Linked DNA regions of Homo sapiens: region 1 is linked to region 2. The links come from fine-mapping of genetic effects on gene expression. A gene starts in region 2. The other region holds a variant in brackets. All regions are shown on one strand. Distances are from middle to middle.

The links.
Region 1: its variant is fine-mapped to the expression of ECHDC2 in transverse colon (GTEx, PIP above 0.99).

Annotation. Positions count from the first base shown.
Region 1 is chr1:52,777,320-52,786,283 of GRCh38, reverse strand. ZYG11B (zyg-11 family member B, cell cycle regulator) reads right to left here. Exons shown (of 14, transcript NM_024646.3): 4 at 6,291-6,431; 5 at 1,231-1,407. Among named protein-coding and RNA genes, the nearest start is that of ZYG11B, 55 kb to the right of the region's middle. The variant T/C (reference allele first, on the strand shown) is at 4,638.
Region 2 is chr1:52,917,811-52,926,705 of GRCh38, reverse strand. ECHDC2 (enoyl-CoA hydratase domain containing 2) reads left to right here and starts at 4,966. Exons shown (of 10, transcript NM_001198961.2): 1 at 4,966-5,153. The coding sequence starts at 5,033. It also overlaps the pseudogene LOC112268226 and the pseudogene LOC100652967. RefSeq lists silencers at 4,990-5,219, 5,068-5,246 and an enhancer at 4,581-5,263.

The sequences.
Region 1 (8,964 bases), 140 kb after region 2:
TTACAGTGACTTCCCATTTCCCCCACCCCATTTCCTAACCTTATTTATTTTATATGCATCCTTTCTCATTTTTCCCTGATCAACTTTGCCAGTGAATTTTCAATACTATTAAATATGTTCAAAGAACCAATTCTTGGAATTATTGATCCTCTCTAAAATAATGGTATGTTTTTTATTTTATTAATTTTTACTTTCATCTTTGTTATTCCTTCCTTCTACTTTCTTTGGGCTTATTCTTTTGTTGTTTCTCTAACATAGGCAGACTTATTTATAGCTCCCTTTTTGTAAGAATGTATCTCTGGGGAGGAAGTCATAGTTTATGCTAGGAGTCTTCTGTCTGACGGGCTTCCAGAGGCCACGAAAATCAAAGCCTAAATTTCATCTAGTTTGGCAACTGCCCTCAATGAGGGAAGCTGGCTTCAATGATCTACTCACCAATGTGGCTTGCCATTTTTACTTGGTTTTGAGCCTCTGAGTATTTTTTACTAACTTGCCAACTCAATGGTCAATTTCAAATGACCTAAAAAAAAGTTAAGGGCCGGGTGAGGTGGCTGTAATCCCAGCATTTTCAGAAGTTAAGGTGGGCGGATCACAAAGACAAGAGATGGAGACTATCCTCACCAACATGTTGAAACCTTGTCTCTACTAAGAATACAAAAATTAGTTGGGTGTGGTGGTGCGCGCCTGTAATCCCAGCTACTTGGGAGGCTGAGGCAGGAGAATCACTTGAACCCGGGAAGTGGAGGTTGCAGTGAGTTGAGATCGCGCCACTGCACTCTGGCCTGGCAACAGAGCAAGACTCTGTTTAAAAAACAAAAAAATTAAGCAACATTTTTAGTATTCATCCTGAGTATAAGACAGGTTACATCTTCTACCATACTGCTAGAAATGGAAAAGACATGTCTTAATCATTTATGTATCCCAGCATTTGATAGTGCCTAGCCCAGAACAGATCCTCTGTGCCTATCTGCTGAAATGATCACAAACTCAAGATCTAGGAGGAAGATGAGTTTTGTATGGCTTGTATTATGTCCCCCAATATATGGATTTAGGTGCTTTTAGGCACGGAATATACTCCTTTGGTGTCCACTTCTCTGTTTTCTTACACTCAGTCATACCACAGCCTCCAAAGGCATTTGAATTTCCAGCCTTGGTCTATTAAACTGAACTGTAGGAGATGAGTAGAAGACACTACAAGGACTATTTGAAAAGGAATTCACATAAGCTTACCTGCTGGTGATTGGGAAAATGTTCCATGGCTTTGAGCAGCAAATGGGTCACATCAGCCAGGAGTCGGACAGGCATCCCTGCAGCAAGATCCTGCTTGGTTAAGTTAAATACACAGGCGCTTGCAGCCAGTTGCACTGGCAAATTCATAGGGTGGTTTCTCATCCCAGTAACCACAAGCTGGAAAAAAAAAATTAGTCCTCTTAATTCACCTTATAAATACAAGCCCTCTTCACAGAGCAGAATTATTTTGTTGGTCTATAGTAATTTCAAAGATGTCATAATTTTCTTTTTCATCCTCATGTGCAAAGAGCCTAGGATATAGCAGTTACTCACAAATAGTTCCAGTCTACCTCACCAAGGCAGGTATTCAGCTATTCATATCTAGGGGTTTTCTGTAAAGTTAATGAATCTTTTTCACACAGGTCACTCATCTTTGTATTTCCAAGACCTACTTATGGTGCCTGTTATATGGAAGGCAGTGAATAAATTCTCACTGACTTGAATAGAGCACACTCCACTCTCAAATTTCAATCTTCAGTTCCTTGAGAACACTGCTGAGGTTAAAGTGCAATAAAATCCATTCACTTTCCCTGGCCTAGACAACTATTTCTCACTTTTTCCTCTGCCCTCAAACCCCCAACGAATCCTTCCCATTCCTCACTATCAGCTGAAGATCTTGCTTTCAACTACACTAAGAAAACTGCCAGCCTGGGCAACATGGTGAAACCCCATCTGTATAAAACAATACAAAAATTCACTGGGGGCCAGGCATGGTGGCTCATGCCTGTAATCCCAGCACTCTGGGAGGCCAAGGCAGGTGGATCACTTGAGGTCAGGAGTTTGAGACCAGCCTGGCCAACATGGTGAAACCCCATCTCTACTAAAAATACAGAAAGTAGCTGGGCATGGTGGCACGTGCCTGTAATCCCAGCTACTCGGGAGGCTGAAGCAGGAGAACTGCTTTAACCCAGGAGGCAGAGGTTGCAGTGAGCCAAGAGCACACCATTGCACTCAAGCCTGGATGACAACGGTGAAACTCCATCTCTCTCTCTCTCTATATATATATATGTGTGTGTGTGTGTATATGTGTGTATGTGTATATATACATATATGTATAGATGTATATACACATATATGTATAGATGTATATACACACACGTGTATGTACATATACACACACGTGTATGTACATACACACACACGTGTATGTACATATACACACGTATGTATACATATACGTGTGTGTGTATATATATATATATATAAAGCTGGGCATGGTAGTACACGCCTATAGTCCCATCTACTTGGGAGGCTGAGGTGGGAGGATCACCTGAGCCCTGGGAGGCAGAGCCTGTAGTGAGCCATGGTTGTGCCACTGCACTTCTGCCTGGGGGACAGAGTGAGACCCTGCCTCTAAGGAAAAGAGAAAAAAAAAAAAAAAAAGAAAGAAAGAAAACTGAAGCAACCAGAAAAGAACTTCAGATTCTCATTACCACATGTATCCTACTTACCAGCATACGTACATATACATGTCACCTTCCTGCCTGCTACCATAAGGAATCTTTTGGGGTCCTTTGTAAAACAAATCCCTTCATGTATATGTTAGATAATTATTTTCTTGTCTACTGAAAGGAAGCTGTTCACCCCTCCTACTCCTATATCAATTTTTTATTCTGTACTGGATCATTCATATCAGGATACAAACAAGATATATTTTTCCTATTAAAAAAAATCAAAACATCCCTCTTTTAATCTCACTTCCTCAAACGATTACCATCTTTTTTCTTTGCTCCCCTTTGCAGCAAAATTCCCTATAAGAATTGCCTTGGCCAGGCATGGTGGCTCATGCCTGTAATCCCAGCACTTTGGGAGGCCGAGGCAGGTGGATCACTTGAGATCAGGAGTTCGAGACCAGCCTGGCCAACATGGTGAAACCTCGTCTCTACTAAAAATATAAAAATTAGCTGGGCGTGGTGGCAGGTGCCTATAATCTCAGCTACTCGGGAGGCTGAGGCAGAAGAATCGCTTGAACATGGGAAGCAGAGGTTGCAGTGAGCTGAGATAGCACCACTGCACACCATCCTGGGCAATAGGGTGAGACTCAGTCTCAAAAAAAAAAAAAGGAATTGCCTAGGCTAGGTGCAGTGGCTCATGCCTGTAATTACAGGACTTTGGGAGCTCAAGGCAGGAGGATCACTTGAGGTCAGGAATTCGAGACTAGCCTGGGCAACACAGCAAGAACCTGCCTCTACAAAAAATTTTTTTAAAATTAGCCTGTGTAACATAGTGTGACCCCCGTCTCTACAAAATTAGCCCGGTGTGGTTGCATGGGCCTGTAGTCCTAGCTACTCAGGAGGCTTAGGCAGGAGGATTGCTCGAGCCCTGGAGTTTGAGGTTACAGTGAGCTATGATCATACTACTGCACTTCAGCCTGGGTGACAGAGTGAGGCACTGTCTCAAAAATAAATAAATAAATTTATTTTTAAAAATTTGAAAAATTAGCCAGGTGTGATGGCACACACCTATACTCCCAGCCATTCGAGAGGTTGAGGCAGAAGATTGCTGAGCTCAAGAGTTTGAGGTTGCAGTTGCAGTGAACTATGATCGTGCACCACTGCACTCCAGCTTGGGCAATACAGCTAGATCTTGTATCTTTAAAAAAATAAAATAAAAGTGGCTCACTCCTATAATCCCAACACTTTGGGAGGCCAAAGCGGGAGAATCACTTGAGCACAGGAATTTGAGACCAGCCTGGGCAACACAGTGGGTTTCCATCACTACAAAAAAACCAATAATAATAATAACAAATTTTAAAATTCAGCCAGGCATGGTGTTATTAGCTTGTAGTTCCAGCCACTCTGGAGGCTGAGGAAGGGGGATCATTTGAGCCCAGGAGGGAGGTCGAGGCTGCAGTGAGCCATGATCATGCCACTGCACTCCAGCATGGGTGACAGAGTGAGATGCTACCTCAATAAATAAACAAATAAATAAATAAATAAATAGCCTATATTCTTCCATTTATCTCTGAATCATTCTCTGAATGTCTGAATGAATATTTCAGATCAAGACTAGAGATCTAGTCTTCTGTTGCTCAGTTCACAGTAATCAAAACAAAAAAAAAAAGACAATTCATATACCAAGTGCCAACATCCTCTGATATATATAAAAGGAGTGACAGGTGTTGGTGATAATATCCTAAGGACTAAAATGTTACTGGTTCCTACCCAAGCGCCTCATTCTCAGAATTTAAGATATGTAGGATATCAAGTTGTGGCTCTGCCACTGACTTATTATTACTTAACGTCACAGAACCTCAATTTCATTATCTGTAAAACAGAAGATAAAACCCATCTCTTGGAATTGTGCCCACTAAATGAGGTGCCAAATATAATAGAGTCCTAAGCTCA[T/C]TGGTTTTCAAAATTGAACGTGCGTAAGAATTACCTTGGAATTATCTTGGGGGCTTATTAAAACGTAGATTCCTGTGCCTCATCTAGCCCTACTGAATCTAAATTTTTGGGAGTGGGGTTTACAAATATCTTTTTTTTTTCTCTTTTAAGACAAGTTTTCACTCCTGTCACCCAGGTTGGAGTGTGGTAGCATGATCTCAGCTCGCTGTAACCTCTGCCTCCCTGGCTTGAGCAATTCTCCCGCCTCAGTGTCCCATGTAGCTGGGACTACAGGTGCGTGCCACCACAGCTGGCTAATTTTTGTAATTTTTGTAGAGATGGGGTTTTGCCATGTTGCCCAGGCTGGTCTTGAACTCCTGAGCTCAAGTGATCTGCCTGCCTTGGCTTCCCAAAGTACTGGGATTACAGGTGTGAGCCACCATGCCTGGCCACAAATAAGCTTTTTAAATAAGCAACATCCTAGACTTCTAGTGGTTAAAGGACAACTTTGGTTGTTGTTGTTGTTGTTGTTTTGAGAGAGTCTTGCTCTGTTGCTCATGCTGGAGTGCAGTGGCACGATCTCGGCTCACTGTAAACTCGGCCTCCCAGGTTCCTCATGCCTCAGCCTCCTGAGTAGCTGGGATTACTGGCGTGCACCACCACATTTGGCTAATTTTTTGTATTTTTAGTAGAGATGGGGTTTCGCCATGTTGGCCAGGCTGGTCTAGAACTCCTGGCCCCAAGTGACCCACCTGCCTCAGCCTCCCAAAGTTATTACAGGTGTGAGCCACTGCGTCCTGGCCCAAAGGACCACATTTTGATAAATGTTGCCCAAAGCATTCAATAAAATTAAGAAATCTCCTTTCTTGCCCTTCAAAAGCTGTTTTGGTTAAAATAGCTAGGTGCTGTGATGTACACACCTGTAGTCCTAGCTACTTGGGAGGTTAAGACAGGATTGCTTGAGCCCAGGAGTTTGAGGCCTGTGAACAGCCACTGCACTCTTGCCTGGGGAACACAGTAAGACCCTATGTCTTAAAAACAAAACAAAACTTAATTGCGGAGTAATGTAAATCAGTTAAGAATGCATAGTAGGTTCTAAACAGCATGGAAAAGTACCTTATAGAATTTCAATATTTGCTTTGTCTTTACTTCTCTCTTTTTTTTATTTTTTTAATACTTTTTGTAGGAATGGGGTTTTGCCATCTTGCTCAGGCTGGTCTCGAACTCCTGGGCTCAAGCTACCCATCTGTCTCAGCTCCTGAAGTGCTAGGATTACAGGCATGAACTACCATATTTGGTGCAATATTGTATTTCTAAAAAATCTATTTGGGAAGCAATATAGGGTTAATATACAATACAGTGTCCTGATTCCAGTCATATACTTTCATTTTCTACAGTAGCTGGTGATAAAATATCATGGTAGTCACTGGTTTTAGGTAGATAAATATGTACTACAAGACATTTATATTGCTTAATGAGATTATTGTGAAGCTTCAATAACATTGTACAACTATCTTCTCTCTCGTTTATAGCTAATGATTGAAATCACACGTCATCAATCACATTATAAATAATAAAAAAAGACTAAATGCAAATTTTCACCAATTTTCTTCAAAAAATCATCTGCCCAGGGAGATCATTTCAAAAATTTCATATCCAGTTTCTTATTCTTACCTTTAAAATTTCTGGCTTTGTTTTTTCCATCACATGAGTCAGACTAAAAAGATGAAATAGAGCTTCCCGAACAAAGAATGCCCGTTCACTGTAACGCTTCAGTGCTTCTGCAATCTGAGTTTCATTGGCTTCCCCAGACACCTGTGAACATAACCAGATTAGCTTTTAGAATTCTCTCTCTTTCTCTATCTAATTATCATGTGTGGCCAGGCGCGGTGGCTCACGCCTGTAATCCCAGTACTTTGGGAGGCCAAGGTGGGTGGATCATGTGAAGTCAGGAGTTCGAGACCACCCTGGCCAACATGGTGAAACTCCATCTCTACTAAAAATAAAAAATTAGCCAAGCACGGTGGTGCATGCCTGTAACTGCAGCTACTCAGGAGGCTGAGGCAGGAGAATCGCTTGAACCCAGGAGGCGGAGGTTACAGTGAGCTGAGATCACGCCACTGCACTCCAGCCTGGGCAACACAGCAAGACTCTGTCTCTAAATAAATAAATAAATATCATTTGTATACATGGTATCTTGGATAGTTATGTAAAGCTGGGATCAAATAAAAATGACTATACTTTCCAATCTATCCAGATTAGTCATCTTAAACAGCTATATCTGTCTTGAAGAGATGTATATTAGATAGGCTCAGAACCTAGCATAAGACCATGGGCGAAATTTTCTGTATTATACCTAAAATAGATCTCAAGATATTTAACACTATTATAAGGCCCTACCGCTTGATTAGGATCCTATCTGCCTCTTAATCCCCTCCCTCTAGCTCACAATGTTATAACTGTATGACCTTTTTTCCTCACCTTTCCGTAAGTCAAGCTTTTTCTCAGCAAAGGACCACTCATACAATGTCCTCTCTGACTGAAAACTTCCTTTCTCTCTTTACCTGACTAATTTCTACTCATTCTTCCTTATTCAAGTTAAGGACACTTTCTTAGAGAAGTCTTTGTTGAGCCACTGATTTAAGTTAGGTCCCCTGAAACATCTCTTTCAGAGCTATTATCATAATCCCCCACTACATTGATCCATTCACCATTGTACCACAATAGCTAGCGTTATGCTTGGCTCAGAATACTTTCTCCATAAGTATTCATCAAATAAATGTATCAATTAATTTCCCCAGATTTATCACGCTCCTTTTCAGCACCAAGAGGTTCTGTTTAAAATTAAGTCTTTCTAGGGATTCCCAACATAAAAGTATATTATTTTAAGATAATACGCTTATCTTAAAATGTAGTTCAGGTGCCATTCGGCAACCAAACGTAGGTAGCAGAAAGTGGCTCTTTATAAAAGTAATCCAACTAGTAAGTGAAAAATAAATGATTAAAATATCACCATAATCCCCAATGAATTGATAGATCTAGCTACTAAGTGTCAATAACTGCTAACATCACAGAAAGAGAAACAACTAGATATTTATGTACCTCATAACGTAAGAATACAACACCTAAGGGTCTGGCCAAAGGGATCTAACGTAAGTCTAATTAAGCCTCCAAATCCAGCTACCAATTTGCAGAAAATACAAAGAGAAAGATGCACCATTAGTATACAATCAGCAAAATCCAGGCTGGCAGAGTGGCTTATATCTGTAATCCCAGCACTTTCGGAGGCTGAGGCAGGAGCATCACTTTAACCCCAGGAGTTCCAGACCAGCCTGGGCAACACAGCAAGACCCTGTCTCTACAAAACATCAACAAATACAATAAAATCCAGACTGAGGGAAACTCTACAAATCCAAACGATAGATTATTCAATAAACAAATTATAAGGAAAAGAAAGGGATGAGGAGAAACCTATAAACTAAAAGATACTCAAAAGACATCAAATTGTTTTAAACAGACAAGATTATACAGGTGCCTAAATAGTTGGGTCATAAAATTATAAAGAAATGAAAGGACATGGTTGGGTGTAGTGGCTCGCGCCTGTAATCCCACCACTTTGGGAGGCTGAAGCGAGCTTTGGGGTAGATGACAAAGTTCTGTTACTTAACCTGAGTGATGGTCTCAAGTGTGTTCACTTTATTTTCAACTCATTAAGCTATATAATTATTTACTGCCTTTGTCTCTGTTTTATTTTACAATAAAGTTTTAAAAAATGCCAAAAAACGTCATTCAGAGCGACTATCTCATAATAAGGGGAAGATTTAGTCTTTTTTGGCAGTAACATTATACAGTGTGACACAAAAGTAATCAAATATTTTAAAAATATATTACTCAGTAACTAAGTTGTATATAAACATATAATATTCAGCCAGGCATGATGGCTCATGCCTGTAATCCCAGCACTTTGGGAGGTAGAAGCAGGAGGATCACTTGAGCCCAGGAGTTCAAAACCAGCCTGGGGAACATAGTAAGACCCTGTCTCTATAAAAGAAAAGAAAAATTAGTTACGTGTGATGGTGCATGCCTGTAGTCCCAGCTACTTGGGAGACTGAAGAGGACTGCTTGAGCCCACGAATTTGAGGCTGCAGTAAGCCATGACTGTGCCACAGCACTCCATGATGCGCAACAGAGTGAGACTCTATCAAAAAAAACAAAAAAGCCTATAAACGTTCAGATTGGAATATGCAGCTTTGAGGAAATGAAGGGATGTATCATGGTTGACATTTCAACCATTAATAGGATATGCTACAAGAGTCTGAAATGAATTAGACTACAGTATTGATATATG
Region 2 (8,895 bases):
GAACTCGGCTCACTGCAGCCTCCGCCTCCCAGGTTCAAGCAATCCTCCTGCCTCAGCCTCCCGAGTATCTGGGATTACAGGCGCGCGCCACCACGCCCCGCTAATTTTTGTATTTTTAGTAGAGATGGGGTTTCGCCATGTTGGCCAGGCTGGTCTGGAACTCCTGACCTTAGGTGATCTACCCACCTTGGCCTCCCAAAGTGCTGGGATTACAGGCGTGAGCCACCGCGCCCGGCTCCCCGGTTTATTTTATCTTATGTAAAAATGCAGATTCATTGAGCTAGATGAATGCATAAGTGACTATTTCTCTACCCCCCTCACATGTGAAGGTTGATCAAAGACTCAGAAGAATGCAACCGTTTGCCTCTTATCTACCCACATCTTTTTAAAATTTATTCATCTTTCCCCAATATCTGCCCCTTCCCCTATAAAAACTGAAGCCCTCAAAATCATCTTTGGAGAAAGGCACGGACCTGTCTCCAAAGATGATGCACGTCCTTAAACTTGGCAAAATTAACTTCTAAATTAATTGAGATCCGTTTCATATACTTTTCGGTTTGCAGTATCAGCATTTAGAAAGGCTCTCCTAGAAGATTCTAAGGATTGCTTCTTGGCCATTTGGCTAAGATCAAGTTTAGGAGATTCTAAGAAGCCCCCTCTGTGCTAAGTAAAGAACTACTGAGCTAGGACTAGACCAACTTAGTAAAATTGCTGCGCTCAGTGATGCACGCCTCCCATCTGCTCAGGAGGCTTCGGCAGAAAGATCACTTGAGCCTGGGAATTCAAGGCTACAAATGTGCTATGATTACACCTCTGAATAGCCACTGCACTCCAGCCTGGGCAACATACCAAGACCACGTCTCTAAAAAACCAAAACGAAACAAAAAAAAAAAAAAAAGAAAAACAAACACAAATCAGGGCACTGACATGTACAGTTGTTTCTTGAAACTGATGGACTGACAAGACAGCAATATGATTGGTGGATCAGACAAAGTTACCAACCTAATAGAACAACAAGTCCTAAGGTCAAGATTAATTGTTATGTAACAAATCCTGGCTGTCCACTGGATATTGCTTTCAAAATAAGAGTCCATAGAGGGCAGAGGGGATAGATAGTAATATAAAAGGTATTTGTTAATACCGAAAAGACTGAGAAAAAACACTTCCCTTTCCAATGTGAAGGACTAAATAATCCAAACTTTTCCCACTATAAAACACAGACTTTTCTAAGTCATTGGATGTGGGGCTCTGGGGTAGCCTGAGCTGTTTGTCCCACACCAAGATGCTTCAAAACATTATTAAAAATGTTTGGATCCCCATGAAGCCCTATTATAACCAAGTTTATCAGGAGATTTGAGTAGGAATGGGGTTAATGAGCCTCATCATTTATAAAATCAGGAGTACTGATAAAATAAGTAAAATATTGAAAGCTTCTCCACCTGCTTATGGTCATCACTAACCAGCTTCACTTAGCATGCACATGAAATGAAACATTAGTCGACCTGTGAATTTAAGCAAGCTATGTTAGAAAGGAACCTGGAAAATCACTGTACACTTATATAAGTACCACTTACTTTGTGGCATGAATAAGTATACCAAAAAAAAACACCCAGAAATGCCAGATAAAATACAATAAATATCATTTTAAGCTGGGTGTGGTGGTACGAGACTGTAATCCCATCTACTTGAGGAGCTGAGGCAGAAAGGCTGCTTGAGTCCAGGAGTTCAAGGCTGCAGTGAGCTACGATTATGCCTGTGAATAGCCACTGCACTCCAGCCTGGACAGCATAGTGAGACCTTTTCTGTTAATACAAAAAGACAAAAAGCAGCGAGGCACAGTGGCTCATGCCTGTAATCCCAGCACTTTGGGAGGCCAAAATGGGAGGATTGATTGAGCCCAAGAATTCAAGACCAACCTGGGCAACATAGCTCCCTATCTCTAAAAAAAAAGAAGAAAAAACAAGAAAAATCTTTTTAAATGGGTGGATGCCAGGCATGGGGGCTCACACCTGTAATCCCAGCACTTTGGGAGGCTGAGGTGGGAGGATCACTTGAGGCCAGGTGTTTGAGACCAGCCTGGCAACATAGGGAGACCTCTGTCTCTACAAAAAATTTAACAATGAGCCAAGTGTGGTGGCCCACTCCTGTAGTCCCAGCTACTCGGAAGGCTGAGACGGGAGGATCCCCTGAGCCCAGGAGTCTGAGGTTGTAGTGAACTGACTGCACCACTGTACTCCAATGTGGGCAACAGAGTGAGACCCTGTCTCAATAAAATAGAATACAATAAATGCATGGAATATGGAGGAGGGAAGGTTTTTCTTTTAATCTTATACCCAATTATAGTTTGTATGTTTTGTTTTTGCTTCTTTTTTTTTTTTAAGACAGAATCTCACTCTGTTGCCCAGGTTGGAGTGCAGTGGTGTGATCTCAGCTCACTACAACCTCCACCTCCTGGGTTCAAGCGATTCTTGCACCTCAGCCTCCTGAGTAGCTGGGATTACAGCTGCCCACAACCACGCCTGGCTAATTTTTGTATTTTTAGTAGAGACAGGGTTTCACCATGTTGGCCAGGCTGGTCTTGAACTCCTGACCTCAGGTGACCCACCCACCTCAGCCTCCTAAAGTGCTGGGATTACAGGCATGAGCCACCGGGCCTGGCTAGTTTGTATGTTTTGATTTTGTGTATATATTAGTTTTATTTTTGCTAAGGCATGTTTTTAATTTTTGTTATTGTGCTTTGTTTTCATTTTCATTATTTATTTTGAGTAAGTTATACTTAAAACAAAAATCAAGATTCAAAAAGTATAAAAGGGGCCAGGCATGGTGGTTCACACCTGTAATCCCAGCACTTTGGAAGGCCAAGGTGGACAAATCGCCTGAGCTCAGGAGTTCGAGACCAACCTTGGCAACATGGCAAAACCCCGTCTCTACAAGAAATACAAAAATTAGCCAATGTTGTGGCATGTACCTGTGGTCCCAGCTACTCAGGAGGGTGAGGTGGAAGGATCACCTGAGCCCGGGAGGCAGAAGCTGCAGTGAGCCAAGATACTGCCACTGCACTCCAATCTGGGCAACAACAACATCCTGTGTCCAAAAACGTATAACAGGTCAAACCGTAAAACTTGTCTCTCTTACCCTTATTCCCAGCCTCTCGGTTCTTCTTCCCTATCCTTCCAAAGATGTTTTATGTAAATACAATCAAATATACACATGCATACTCTTATCCCCCTTGTTAACACAAATTTTTGTTTTCTTTATTATTTCTTTCAATAGAGGTGGGGTTTTGCTATGTTGGCTAGGTTGGTCTTGAACTCCTGGCCTCAAGCAATCCTCCTGTCTCGGCCTCCCAAAGTGCTAGGTTCATGAGCATGAGCCACCAGACCCGGCCAAATTTTAGCTTTCTTTACACACTATTCTGCATTTTGACTTGTTTCATATACCAATAGATTTTGAAGATTGTTTCATATCAATGCATAAACAGTTTCCTGTGTTTTGTTATAGCTGCATAGTATTCAGATTATTGATGTACCTTTTTTTTTTTTTTAAGTAGAGATAGGGGCTTGCTATATTTCCCAGGCTGGTTTCAAACTCCTGGCTTCCAGGGACCTACCTGCCTTGGCCTTCCAAAGTGTTGGAATAATAGGGTGAGCCACCACACACAGCCCCATAATTTATTTAACCAACCCTCTATTGATGGATATTGAGACTGTGATATAGTTTGGGTGTTGGATCCCTCCAAATCTCACGTTGAAATATGATTCCCAATGTTGGAGGTGGGCCCTGTTGGGAGGTGACTGGATCATGGGGACAGATCCCTTGTGAATGGTTTAGCACCATCCCCTTGGCGATAAACTGGGACCTCCCCACCTAATTTTCTTGTTCCTATTCTCGCCATGTGACATGCTGGATCCCTGTCACCTTCAGCCATGATTGTAAGCTTCCTGAGGCCTCACCAGAAGCACATGACAGCACCATGTGCTTCCAGTCTTTTGCTATTATAAACAATGCTGCAATGTACAGCCATGAACACGTGTCATTTCACAGCTGTGTGGATTTATCTGTAGGTTAAATTTCTAAAATTGGAATTTCTGGGGCAATGAGCTTGTGCATTTATAATTTTGATATAAATTACCAGTTGCTTTTCATTTAAAGACATTCACATCAGCAATGTGAGAGTGCTTTGTATATACTGTGTTTAAGAGAATAATTTTTTTTTTTGGGACGCAGTTTCGCTCATTGCCCAGCCTGGAGTGCAGTGGCGCGATCTCAGCTCACTGAACCTGTGCCTTCCGAGTTCAAGTGATTCTCCTGCCTCAGCCTCCCAAGTAGCTGGGATTACAGGCGCCCGCCACCACGCCCAGCTAATTTTTTTGAATGTTTAACAGAGACAGGGTTTCGTCATGGTGAAACCCTGCCTCTACTAAAAATACAAAAAAAATTAGTTGGGCGTGGTGGCGCGTCCCTGTAATCCCAGCTACTTGGGAGGTTGAGGCAGGAGAATCGCTTGAACCCGGAGGCGGAGGTTACAGTGAGCCAAGATCAAGGCACAGCACTCCAACCTGGGCGACACAGCGAGACTCCGTCTCAAAAAAAAAAAAAAAAAAAAAAAGTGAGGCGCAAATGGGAGGTGAAGCAGTGAGGTTCGCAAGTGTAGACACGCTCAAGGGACTCATTAAATGTCATTTCATTTAAAAAATGAAATTGAGCATATGTGCAAGCAAGGTTCACACACCCCATTTAATCTTCACACCACCACGGGGTAGTCACTATTATCCCCATTTTACAGGATTAAAACACTGACGCTGGGAGGTTGACAGAGTTACACCAAATCACACAGAGGAGCTGGGCTTCCCCCGACCTCCTCCGCTCAAGTCTCCCTGTCCCCGGGAGGTGCGGAAGGAGGCAACAGACGCTTGGCCCATAGGTGGAGCAATTGGCGAAGGCTTCGCCCGACGCCGGAACTGCGAGCTCTCAGCGGGAGCCGAGACGGTGCAGGGCCGGAGAAGCACCTTCACTCCCAGCCTGCGCCCCGATGCTGCGCGTTCTGTGCCTCCTGCGCCCCTGGAGGCCCCTTCGGGCCCGCGGCTGCGCTTCCGACGGGGCGGCCGGGGGCTCAGAGATCCAAGTGCGCGCCCTGGCGGGTCCGGACCAAGGTAAATGTGCAGTTCCGGGGCGGCGCATGACGCGACTGGGACTAGGCCGGAGGCAGCGGGGGACCGGCAGGTGGGCCGCTCAGTGCGTTGAAGGATTCGATCCCCAGTCCCTCCCTCCCAGTTCTAGGCGCCCCAAACCGCTCCAGGCCTGAGAGGTGGGCGGCCGCCTTAGTGGCTCCAGACTCTAGCTGGGGGCGGGGGGCCTCTGGCAACCTCGGTCTCTTCAAAGGCCCTTTGGGGTCTTCCGACTGTGTGGAAGGGGGAGCGGGGTCCGCACGGGTAGGACTGGGCCCCGCGGCCCCCAGGCCAGGAGCGTTTAAGTGCGCGTTCCCCTCCCCCGCCAAGGGTCCTGGCCCGGTTCGGGGGCGGAGGCAGCGGAGCCAGTCCCAGTGCCCAGTGCGGCAGCGGGCAGAGTGAGGAGGGTGCCTCTCCAGCCGCGCGCCCGCCCTGGGCCGCTAGCGAACCTTTGCGTCCTTCTGGCTCCAGGGAAAAGTTCGCTGTTTCTCCGCCTTTTGGCCAAGATCAAGGATAGTATGGAGCGGGGACGAGGGGTGGGGGGCAAAGTTCGCGGGTCACTGGCAGAAAACGCCTCTGATCGCGTGTTGCGTTTTTGTTGTTGTTGTTGTTTGAACTTCTGGAGCATTCAGTGGTGCTGATAACGCTCCTCAGTCCTCTGCTGGTAACCATCAGGGCTAGGCGCTTCTCCTGCCTTGGGTCTCCTCCCCGCATCTCATCCCCTGTCTCCTGCATTTGATACACAGATGGCATTGTACTGTACATTTCGTTGTATTGCTTCTTTTTTTTTTTTAACAAAAGTTTATTCTTAAATGTACAACAGCTCCAAGACAACACTTAATTCCAGCCATAGGTGGCAAAAGATGTTATGGCAGGGAATAGAGAGGTTTAAATACTGATGAAATAAAGGGTCACCATCTCCTTAGGCACAGGGAACAGCTTACTTTTTGCCAGATTTCTTAATTCCACTTGTGGCCAAGGGCCCCTTCCCCGTGGCCTTCCATTTTAGCTCCTCGAGTTTCTTCTGCTCCTCTTTTTGTTTCTGCTTGAAAGCCTTATCTTCCTCGTCCATCTCCTTGGCCTGCATTCTTGGGCTGTTTCAGTGGCTTCTTGCCACCTTCGTGGCCGGACATGGCGCCTGCCGCCCCTTCCCCAGCAGTATTGCTTCCTTTTTACCGGCTTGACAACAAGTTTGAAGCGGGGCTTTGCCATAAAATCCAGTTCCTTGCTCCCTGCTGTTGCCCACTGTTCCCAAGTGTGCATCTACCACCTTCAGTGGACACGGACAGGCCACCTAGAGTCCCACTGCACCACTTGGTGAGAATTTCCTTGAACAGTTAATATTGCTGAACCTTATACCCCCAATCTCATGCTTAGTTCACTACCCAACTGGCAACAGCTCTTAAGACAGTCAAGATTATTCTCCCCACTTTACAGATTAAAAAACTGAGGCACAGAAGGTTAAGTTATTTGAACCAGGTCTGATTTCAAAGCCTGTGTTCTCAACCATTAGGTAATCACTGGCTCTTCTAGTAATTCAGTGACTCAAAATACAGACTTGTACATGTGTAAACACAAAATTATCATGGGTTAAAGACCTTTAGGCTCACTTGCAAATATCGGGAATCATTTTATCCAAAAAAGAATGACAAGGATCAGCAGATTAAGCCTCTGCCCCTGCCAGAGGGCTCAAAGGGCAGGAAAAGGCAGTGAGAGAAGGAGAGACAGAAACCAAGATGACAGTGCAGAGGAGGCATGGGGATGAGATCACACACGGAGCCCTCACAGGGAATGAGTTGGGGTCATTTGATGTTCATATTAGAAGCTGCAGGTTCTGCCTTCCACTGGGGCTGATGGCACAAGAGCACTGTTACATTTTACCTGCTGCCTTTGAGCTTGAGGTTGGGTGGTAAACCATTCTTCACTGTTCTTAGCGGCTTTATTTCTCATAGAGTCATGTGTTGCTTAACAACGGGGCTACATTCTGAGAAATGCATCATTAGGTGATTGTGGTCATTGTGGGAGCATCACAGAGTGCACCTACACAGTCCTAGATGGGGTAGCCTACTGCACACCAAGGCTACATGGTGTATAGCCTGTTGCTCCTAGAATACAAACCTGGACAGCATGGTACCGGGCTGAATACTGTAGGCAACTGTAACACAATGGTAAATGTGTATCTGAACATAGAAAAGGCACAGTAAAAATACAGTCTAAAAGATTTTTTAAATAGTACACCTGTACTGGGCAGTTACCATAAATGGAGCTTGCAGGACTGGAAGCTGCACTGGGTGAGTCAGCGAGTGAATGGTGAGTGAATGTGAAGGCCTAGGACAGCAGGGACTGGTTTGGCACCAGGGACTATTTTCATGAAAGACAGTTTTTCCATGGACTTGCGGGCGGACAGATGGTTTGGGGATGAAACTGTTCCACCTCAGATCATCAGGCATTAGATTCTCATAAGGAGCTCGCAACAACCTAGATTCCTCACATGCACAGTTCACAATAGGGTTCGCACTCCTATGAGATTCTAATGCCACCACTGATCTGATAGGAGGTGGAACTCAGGTGGTAATTCAAGCCATGGGGAGCTGCTGTAAATACAGATGAAGCTGCTCATCTCCTGTTGTGTGGCCCAGTTCCTAGCAGGCCACAGACTGGGATGGGTCCACAGCCCGGGGGTTGGGGACCCCTGGCCTAGGACATTACTGTACACTACTATAGACTCTATAACACTGTACACCTAGGCTACACTAAATTTGCTTTACAAATGTTTCTTTCTTCAATGATAAATTAACCTTAGCTTACTCTGTTTTTACTTTATAAACTTTTTAATTTTTTCAACTTTTGACTCTTTTGTAGTAACACTCAGCTTAAAACACAAACACATTGTACGGCTGTACAAAAAATGTTTTCTTCTTTAGATCCTTATTTTATAAGCTTTTAAAAATTTTAATTCTTAAACTTTTTTTGTTAAAAACAAAGACACAAGCACACACACGAGCCTAGACCTATCACTGTCTTCCACCTCCACATCTTGTCCCACTGGAAGGTCTTCAGGGGCGATAACGTGCATGGAGCTGCCATCTCCTATGATAACAATCGGGAATACCTACTGAAGGACCTGCCTGAGGCTGTGTTACACTGAACTTTTTTCTTTTCTTTTTTTTTTTTTTTTTAATAAGTAGGAGTACACACGGCCCAGGCCAGGTACAGTGGCTCACCTGGCTCACTCTTGTAATCCCAGCACGTTGAGAGGGTGAGGCAGGCAGATTGCTTGAGCCCAGGAGTTTGAGACCAGCCTGGGAAACATAGTGAAACCCCTTCTCTACAAAAAAATACAAAAATTATCCAGGCATGGTTGTGCATACCTGTAGCCCCTGCTACTCAGGAGGCTGAGGTGGGAGGATGGCTTGAGCCGGGGAGGTCAAGGCTGTCCAATATCAAGGATTCCTGATATTTGCAAGTGAGCCCAAAGGTGTTTAACCCATGAGTGAGCCATGATCGTGTTACTGTACTCCAGCCTGGGCAACAGAGTAAGACCCTGTCTCAAAAAAATTAAAAATAAAAAGTAGGAGTATATTCTAAAATAATGGTAAAAATAATATTGTAAATATATAAACCTAAAACATAGTCTTTTATTATCATTATCAAGTATTATGTTGTGGGCCTAATTGTATGTGCTGTGCTTTTGTATAACTGGTAAAGCAAGCTAGTTTACACCAGC